Linked DNA regions of Homo sapiens: region 2 is linked to region 1. Evidence: fine-mapped expression QTL. Tissue or cell type: cerebellum. Region 1 holds a variant in brackets; the other region holds the start of a gene. All regions are shown on one strand. Distances are from middle to middle.

Region 1 (4,241 bases):
TGGTCAAACTGTTTTCCCAAGTGGCTGTAGTTTTTTACATGCCCACTAGTCGTGCTTGGGAATTCTGTTTCTCTTCACCCTCATCAAAAATCGGTGTGGTCAGTCTTTTAAATTTTAACCATTTTAGTGGATGTGGAGTGGTATTCTATTGTGGGATTAATTTGCATTTCCTAAATGACTAATAACAACTCTGATTTGGAATGCTTAATATCCTACTTTTCTGACTGTAGCCTCCTGTCATTCCAATGCTCATTCTCCTTTTCCCAGCACGTTTATTCTTAAGCTTTAAGCTTTATCAAGATTTCTGGTCCCAGCACCTCTTGTTTCATTCTCTCCTCTAGCTTCAGTTCCCTCTTCAATCACTTTTCTTCCAGTATTCTTAGCTTTGAATCTTTGCCCAGTTTTGCCATCTACTCTGCTTCTAAGTGCTATCAGAGGAAATCATATAGTTTTGTTTTGACACTACTATGAATTTTTTTGTAACTTTTAATTTATATTTATTTTCAAACTTTTACATAGTTATTGCATGTACAGTACAAGGAGCTTTCATACATCGTTTTTCTAGATTCCCAATTGTTATACTGTGTCCTGTTTGCTTTATCATATTCTTACTTTCCTTGGGGGTGTATTATGCATGCATATATAAAAATTAAATTAGTATGCACATACTATATATGCATTGTATATATAATACATATGCATGCTATGTTTTTCTGAATCATTTGAGCATAAGCTGGAGACTTTTACCCCTACATACTTCAGTATATATTTCCATAGAGCAAGAATATTCTCTTACACAGTGTGATTAAGTTATCAAAATCAGGAATTTTAACTTTTATGCAATAATATTATTTAATATACTGTCCTTATTTAGTTTTGTCAGTTGTCTCAACAATACCCTTTATAGCTTTTTGTTTTGGTTTGCTTTGTTTTTTTAAGCTTTACTACAAACTTTATACTTTACAACTCCAGCTTGGACTTGTCCATCCTTTTTGATCCTAACCCTCTACCATTTTTCTGTGTGCTTATCTTAAACCTTCTCTATTCTTTAAGACTTTGGCCGAGCACAGTGTGGTTCATGCCTGTAATCCCAGCACTTTTAGGGCCAAGGTGGGTGGATTACCTGAGGTCAGGAGTTCCAGACCAGCTTGACCAACATGGTGAAACCCTGTCTCTACTAAAAATACAAAATTAGGGGGTGTGGTGGTGCACGCCTGTAATCCCAGCTACTCAGGAGGCCGAAGCAGGAGAATTGCTTGAACCCGGGAGACGGAGGTTGCAGTGAGCCGAGATTGTGCCACTGCACTCCAGCCTGGGCGATAAGAGCGAAACTCTGTCTCAAAAGAAAAAAACGACTTCGTCCTCACTCTTTCCTTATGCTTTATTGTTACCATTGACATAATTTTGTGAGTTTTCTCAATTTCCTGCCCCTTCTTTTCCTTAATTTACAAATACCTGTATCTTCATTTACCCTCTTTTCTTTATGGAAGATAAATTCTTTCTGGATAAGAAAATTCTGTTACGTGTGCTGTAGATCATTGCTGTCTAATATGGTAGTTAGTAGTGGCTATTTAAATTTATTAAAACTTAGCTCCTTAGTTGCACTAGCTCCATTCCAAGTGCTCCGTAGTTCCACAGGGCTGGTGGCTACTTAATATATTGGGTAGCACCTTTCTAGATTCCCTTCTTTCCCAACATTTGAGGGATTTTTCTTTATCTCATCTTTATCCATAATAGACCCACCATAATCTTGCCCTTGCTTATCTC[A/G]GTATCCTCATCTCAACGTGTACTGTACTTCAGTCACAGTAAACTACCAGCATTTTCTCTAAATACATTGTTTCGGGCCCTTTTCACTTTTACAGCTGTTATCTTCCCACATCTTCCTGAAAGACCTACTCATAATTGACAACTCCTTCTGTTCTTCACTGATCACACCAGATTGCAATAATTCAACATATTTGCCTCTTGTACCAAAGCTGTGAGATCCTTTGTGAGTAGGGGCCATATTCTGTCTTCGTGTGTGAGTGTGTGTGTTTTTTTTTTTTTTTTTTTTTTTTTGAGACAGAGTCTCTGTCACCCAGGCTGGAGCAGTGGCACGATCTCCTCACTGTAGCCTCCACCTCCCTGGTTCAAGCAATTCTCCTGTCTGAGCCTCCCGAGTAGCTGGGATTACAGGCTGTGCCACCACCTGGCTAATTTTTGTATTCTTAGTAGAGATGGGGTTTTGCCATGTTTGCCAGGCTGATGTTGAACTCCTGGGCTCAAGTGATCTGCCTGCCTCAGCCTCCCAAAGTGGTGGGATTACAGGTGTGAGCCACCACTCCCAGCCTAGCCTTTGTGTTCTCTTGACCTAGCATTCAACTATATGTTGAATTGAAATGAATATGTAATCTCTGCCTTCTAGCTGCTTACCATAGGCTGATTGATGATCACTTGTATAGACTCCATTGCCTGTGGAAATGGAATAGCTTTCCTTGTAATACTGCCTGAGCTCTGCTTTCCACCCAGTCCGTTTTAGCCTACTTGAGCCCTGGACCTTGACTGCTGTCTGGATGCTTGAACTATGTTTTCCTTTTTATTTTTCTAATCATCTAGAATCCAGCCTAACTCTCCACCCTTCTAGGTATTTATATTTTAAGAGTATCAGTCTACTTGTGACTCTTGAGTGCACTATGTAGAATCATGGTATCATGTTTTATTTAGTCTGTAATATCCTTCATCCTCATTCAAAATATTAAGGTGAGTCTCCCACCATAAACCAAAACAATCCTTTCCCTATAACGAAGCTAATCACTGTATAACTTCTCTTCCTTGTTTCTATTTGTGTTGTTTCATATTATATTGTGACTTGTTAATTTGTCTGTTTTCCTGAGTAGCAGCCATTCCTTATTCAAATCATACTGCTCAGAAACTTTTTCATTTCAGCTTACGTAGCTATTAAGTAGTAAAGCAAGAATTTGAAGCCAGATGTACATTTTTTTCTGTATCCTCAGTATCTGATAGTACCTAAGTACTCAAGAAATGCCTCTTGAATTGACCAGTGACCACAACTCTGTCAGAATCTGCATTTCATTCTTTTTGATGTCTTAGCATGTTCAGGTGCTTGAGCTTTGGAGTCAGACTCTCTGGGTTCAAATCCTTGCTTTACTGCTTACCAGCTGTTTGACCTGAGCAAGTTCCATAATCTCTGTAGGCCTCAGTTTCCTCATTCTAAATAGTTACTACTACCTTTAAGGGATATTGTGAAGATGAAAGGAGACAATGCAGATAAAACATTTATCATGGGACCCCTCAATTCTGTTCTTACTATTTGTCCTGCAATTCTGACTTACCTACTAGCTCTTAGTTAATCCTGCTCCATGCTCATCCCATGTTTTTGTTTGTTTTTTTAACTGGCAGAGCCAATGAGACATCTAAGTGAATTTCTAGTAGGCAGTTAGCAAAAACAACCCTGGAGAATGGTCTGAGAAAGAGTCATATTTGGGGGAGATTTGCTCAGAACTCCTATTTAGAACTTTGAAACCTGAGCTAATGTATATAAAAAGACAAATAGCAGGTGATGGGATTTTGAGATACCATTCTAGGAGCCATGTATCTTCAGGCAACCCAGTTTTCAAATATTTTTTATTGGTCTTCTAAATTTTTGGAATATTTTAGAAATAATAACTTTTTGACACCCTTAAAATACAGAGTCACACATTTGGAAGTAGCACAAAAATTTGAACTGCCTCTTTGCCGCAACCCACTAGAGGTTTATGTTTTTCTACTGAAATATTCTATCTTGTTGAATCACACATCCTAGGTTTTGATTTAGAAGATATGGTCACCATAGGTGTTACTTGACTTGGCCACTAGGAGGAAGAGAAGTTGCCAAAGGAAATTCTTGCAAAGAAAGATTTCATTAGTATCATATTTTCTATTTAGTTGTTAAGGGGTGTGTGTGTGTGTGTGTGTGTGTGTCGGGCACACGTGCACATGTGTAGTTTCTCACCCTATTAGGTGATTTTATATCAGAATGGGGTGAGAAGGAAGGAGGAGGATGTACGTGAAAATCTAGAGGTGTTATTGAGAAGACTGAGTACCACAAAAAGCTCTGAATCTGGATGCCTAATGGATGGTTTGTATGTGATTAAACTCCAAGCCATACTTCATTCTTCTAATCATTTTGGTAGTTTTCTCAGAATAATCAAATGTTCTTTTGAAAGAAAAGGTAACCAGGACCTTTCGTTCATTTGCTTTCG
Region 2 (4,241 bases), 810 kb before region 1:
ACTCCACAGGAGGCCCTGGGAATAGGTAGCGGGTGGGCTAAAACATTGATTTGGAATGAAATCCAACGGCCGTGGAACCAGCCCTGATCATCAAATTATTCCCAGTTTTGAGGATCGCACTGCACCCTCCTCTCTCCCTCTCTTTCCTACACCTTGGACAGACAGCCTGAGATTCCAGGGCGTGTGTGAAGGAAAGCCGAGGAGGGCAGGGCCGCAGAGAGAACAAAGGGGACACGAGTTCAAATTCCTGCCAGGGTCTGAGACCTGCAACGTCAGACTTTGGGAGCGTCCCCTCACTTCTCCGGACCCCAGGAGTGGCCGCGCCTGCTCCGCGCTCACCCTCGGGGAGTCTAGGAGCCCCCTGCTAAGTTGCTGAGCGAGTCGGAGCCCCAAGAGCTAGGGTCGAGGGGGTGGGGCAGCAGGCGCCTCTGCCGAGGCTGCAGGTAGGCACTTCCCCACCCCCGCGGCCCCCTCCTTCCTCCTTCCTCGCAGCTCGCACACCCACACAACCCTCGCCCGTCGCGGCTGGAGAGCTGCTCTCGGCGCCAGCGGGCAGCAGCGCGTCGTCAGCCAGCACAGCCGGCCGAAGACCAAGCCGGAGGTCTGGGGCTGCGCAGAGACCTGCACACCCGCAGCGCGGAACCGGGGGCGATTCCTATCTTTCTTTCATGCTTCTTTCTTTTTCTTAAAACCAAACCAAACCAAACCAAACCCAAAACTCCCCTGCTCCCACCGCAACTTGGAGGAGCGGTGGACCGATTTGAAGGAACTGACGCAGAGGTTTTATTCACGAACCTTGAAGAAGTTCTGGGCAAGTGACTCAACAGGACCCGCGGGGCCCGGGGTAGCCCCAGCTCCCGGCGCTGGTTCAGTCTGGCAGTGCCCTCTGGCAGCCAACCCGCAGCTGCAGGTAGGGGTGCTGGACGCCCCCTGATTTTGTTTTGGGAATAATAATGACACTACCTATAGCCTGGACCCAGGTGGCCTCGCTCGGCGATTGTCCCCACCAGGTAAGCGCACCCCCAGGGGTCTGCATTGGTCACCCGGGTGGGGACCTCGAGCTCCCGAGAAGTCGGTCCATGCTGTTTAGCCACAGGCAGGAGTGGGGAACTGGTAGGAGACAGCTTGCTTTTATCACAGGAAATTGTGGGAGACGGGAATGGAAGGCGGATTTAACATTTTTTATTTTTGCATTGACGCGTGGGGATGAGATGCGTAGGGGCCTGGATTCTTGTAGGAAATGGTTGCGGAGCGGGGCTGGGTGATAGGTGTCTGGATTTTTGCAGGGACTGAAGGGGAAGAAAGGTCGTCAGTTTTTGCAGAAACCTGTGAGGAACTGGCGGTGAGAGGTTATGATCCTGAAAATGTGCACGAAATTGTAAAAAGTAGGCACCTAAGCATTTCTGAGAAATGATGGGAGAAGCACTTACCGCCCTGGTTTCACCTGACCCCCATGCTCGGCCTTCTGGAAGATGCCCACAGACACTGGCAATAATGGACGCTGGCACACTCTGCCGGCGCGGCCGGAGCCCCGGAGTTCAGCACCTCGGACAGAGCCCGAGCCCCGCCGCCCGAGGCGCACAGTGAGCGTGGAACAGCCCGGCTCCCTAGCCCCCGGCCAACGCTGCTCTCAGTTCAGGGCAGCTACGTAACACCGCCCCTAGCTCCGCGCCAGAAAGGGCTCTCGAATCGCAAAAGCAAACGTGTTCGATTTCTGATCTGCTTCTAACTGCTTCCCGTGACTGCAGAAGGAAGAGGCGGAGTGTAAAGATATCTCCCAAGCTTCCGCGAAAACTACAGGCAAACTGTGTGGCCTCCCCGGATTTCGGAAGGTGTACCCAAACTTCTTTAAAAATCTAGCATTTATTAAGCGCTTACCATGTGCCAAGGCCCCGTGCTAAGCCAGTGCACCACAAATTTGTGTCCTATGAGTATCCCCATTTTACAGATGAGAAAACTGAAGCAAGAGAGGCCGAGTAACTTGTCCAGGTTTATGGAACTAGCAAATGGTATGGCTGCGCTCTTAAACGCTGCCAGATTGCAGTGGTGGGAGGATGTGCTTGAGTGGAATTCCCTGCGTGAAATAGCTCTGAACTTGGGATCAGAGGAACAGAGTTTAAATCAAAGCTGTAGCACTTAAAAACGTGTGCCCTTAGACAAAATTACTAAATGTGTCTGAACTTCAGATTTTAACTATCTGTAAATACTTGATAATGCTTTCCTTGCAAAAGTGTCAGGGGAGGGTGGCCAAGGAGATCATATGTGTGGAAAGACTGGCAAACTGGGAATTGTGGTTGGGTGTTAGGGGCTGAAAGGAAGGAGCAGGTAATTAGAAGAGAAGGAGAATTGGTGGTGAACACTTCCCTCAGCACACTCCAAAGGGACTGGGCACAGAGCGGGGCTCAGTGGGAGGAATTCTGGATGAGCTTAGTTCAGTGTGTAATAGCCTCTTAGATTTTTTAACAGGACTTTATAGAGAGTGTGGACATATTGCCTACCATTTGATCCTTATAACAATGTTGTTAAGTAGGCAGGACTGGGGTTATTCTACTTGTTTGGCAAAATGATGCTTGCCCAAAATTACTCAGGTACTTAGTAGCAGAGCTGGGATTAGAATCCAGATCTCCCGCCTCTCTAGCTTATAATCCTTCCACATGGACTGGCACATCCTCAGGAGCTTGAATTATGGGGCAGTTAAGCACTAAAGTGTATTTAGACAAGTACTATAAATATGTGACATTAATGGTTTTTAAAACCATTTTGAAACAGCAGTTTCATATGGATTAATCTCATAAATGTTTATTGATTATATTCTATTTTGTTCCACAAAGAATTTAAAGCAATTTAGAAGGCTCCACAAGATGTCAGGTTTGCACGTATTCGAAGTAGTCGAGAAAACAGAGGTGAAACAAGATTAAGGCTATAGCCACAGATAAAATGAATACAAAGTATGTATATTATAAAGTCCTAGAAACTTGCTCTGGTCTCTAAGTACTAGAAAGTGTATAACCAAGCACTTTCTTGGAGGTCTAGGAACTTTGAAAATGTTTGCAAAAGTCCGTAGACTCTTCTCTTTTGTATAATTCCATCCCTTGCCCTCTGTGAGATCTTCACTGTGCCAAACAAGGGATGTTTAACTGGAAATCCAATGTCAGTGTGACTTGAAGAAGGGGAAATAAAGTGTATGACATTGTATCTGCACTCAGGTAATTAAGTGTTAGTTACATAATTTATAATGGTTCACATGAGCAAACCATACTTTAAAGTTTATATAAAGGTTTACATCCGTTAGCTTATTTAGGCCTTCTAACAACTCTGAAGAGATAAGCAGCTACAAAATGACAGGAAGGACAAAATCCTAGCATCGCGATTTTATATATTATGTATTTTACTTTCATACACAAACCCGCATCCCTATACAGGCCAGTTAAGTAACCTGAATGTGTGAATCGGGCCAATTGTAAGACTACGGAGAATGACAGGGCCTTTTCAAACTGAAGAGTGAATAATCCATCTTAAAACATTCAAAGAAAATTTAAAGCACAGTGCCAGCCAAGCAAGACATGACTGTGGGCTACATCGGCTGTCAGACCTTTAATATGTAATCTTGGTCTAAACTACTCAGGCCAAGGATCTGAGAAGGCATGGGAGTGAAAGACCCTGGATTCAGAGAGAGAAAAGTTTCAATTCCTGTATTTAAGTTTCCTGTTTCTAAACATGGAAGATTGAACAAGATGGCTCCTCTCAGCTTAAAAAATATAAGACATCTTTACTTTTGGGGACAATAAAATAATCAAAGGACATCAGGACAATAATAGCAAACACTTGCATCTACTTATTGCCTCCATGAAAGAAGGCATCATTTTAATTTTCTGACACTGGTGATATTTTAATCTTCAGTATTTCCTCTCCAGCCCCTGTGCCATTGGAAGATATAGTGGCCACCATTATAGTGGAAATGAGTCCAACAGAAAACAGACCAGAGAGGTGAAAGTGATGGTGGGGGTGGAGTGGGGGTGGGGGGTTGGCGGGTAGAGACAGGGAGTACAGCAAGGGAGGAACCAGGCAAACTTTGCTCTCTTCTCAGTTTACTCTTCTTATGAAACACATGAAAAAAACCCACTTTATGGTTGCTAATTTTTAAAGACAAAAATATTCTGGCCAGAGCAGCCAAAGTGGATGGGATCTCAACATTCTAGGAATGCTTCAGCTTTTTTCAATCCAGATTGTTTCTTTTCTCT

The links. PIP is the estimated chance that this variant, and not a neighbour inherited with it, causes the effect.
Region 2: ANKRD34C-AS1 starts here. The variant in region 1 is the best candidate, but not a certain one, in a credible set for the expression of ANKRD34C-AS1 in cerebellum (GTEx, PIP 0.56).

What each region holds. Positions count from the first base shown.
Region 1 is chr15:80,087,227-80,091,467 of GRCh38, forward strand. All of the region lies in intron 1 of ZFAND6 (zinc finger AN1-type containing 6), which reads left to right. Among named protein-coding and RNA genes, the nearest start is that of ZFAND6, 30 kb to the left of the region's middle. The variant A/G (reference allele first, on the strand shown) is at 1,768.
Region 2 is chr15:79,282,219-79,286,459 of GRCh38, forward strand. It overlaps ANKRD34C-AS1 (ANKRD34C antisense RNA 1), which reads right to left and starts at 1,727. Exons shown (of 2, transcript NR_038997.1): 1 at 1,431-1,727. ANKRD34C (ankyrin repeat domain 34C) reads left to right here and starts at 504. Exons shown (of 2, transcript NM_001146341.2): 1 at 504-1,010. RefSeq lists an enhancer at 439-978 and a silencer at 630-828.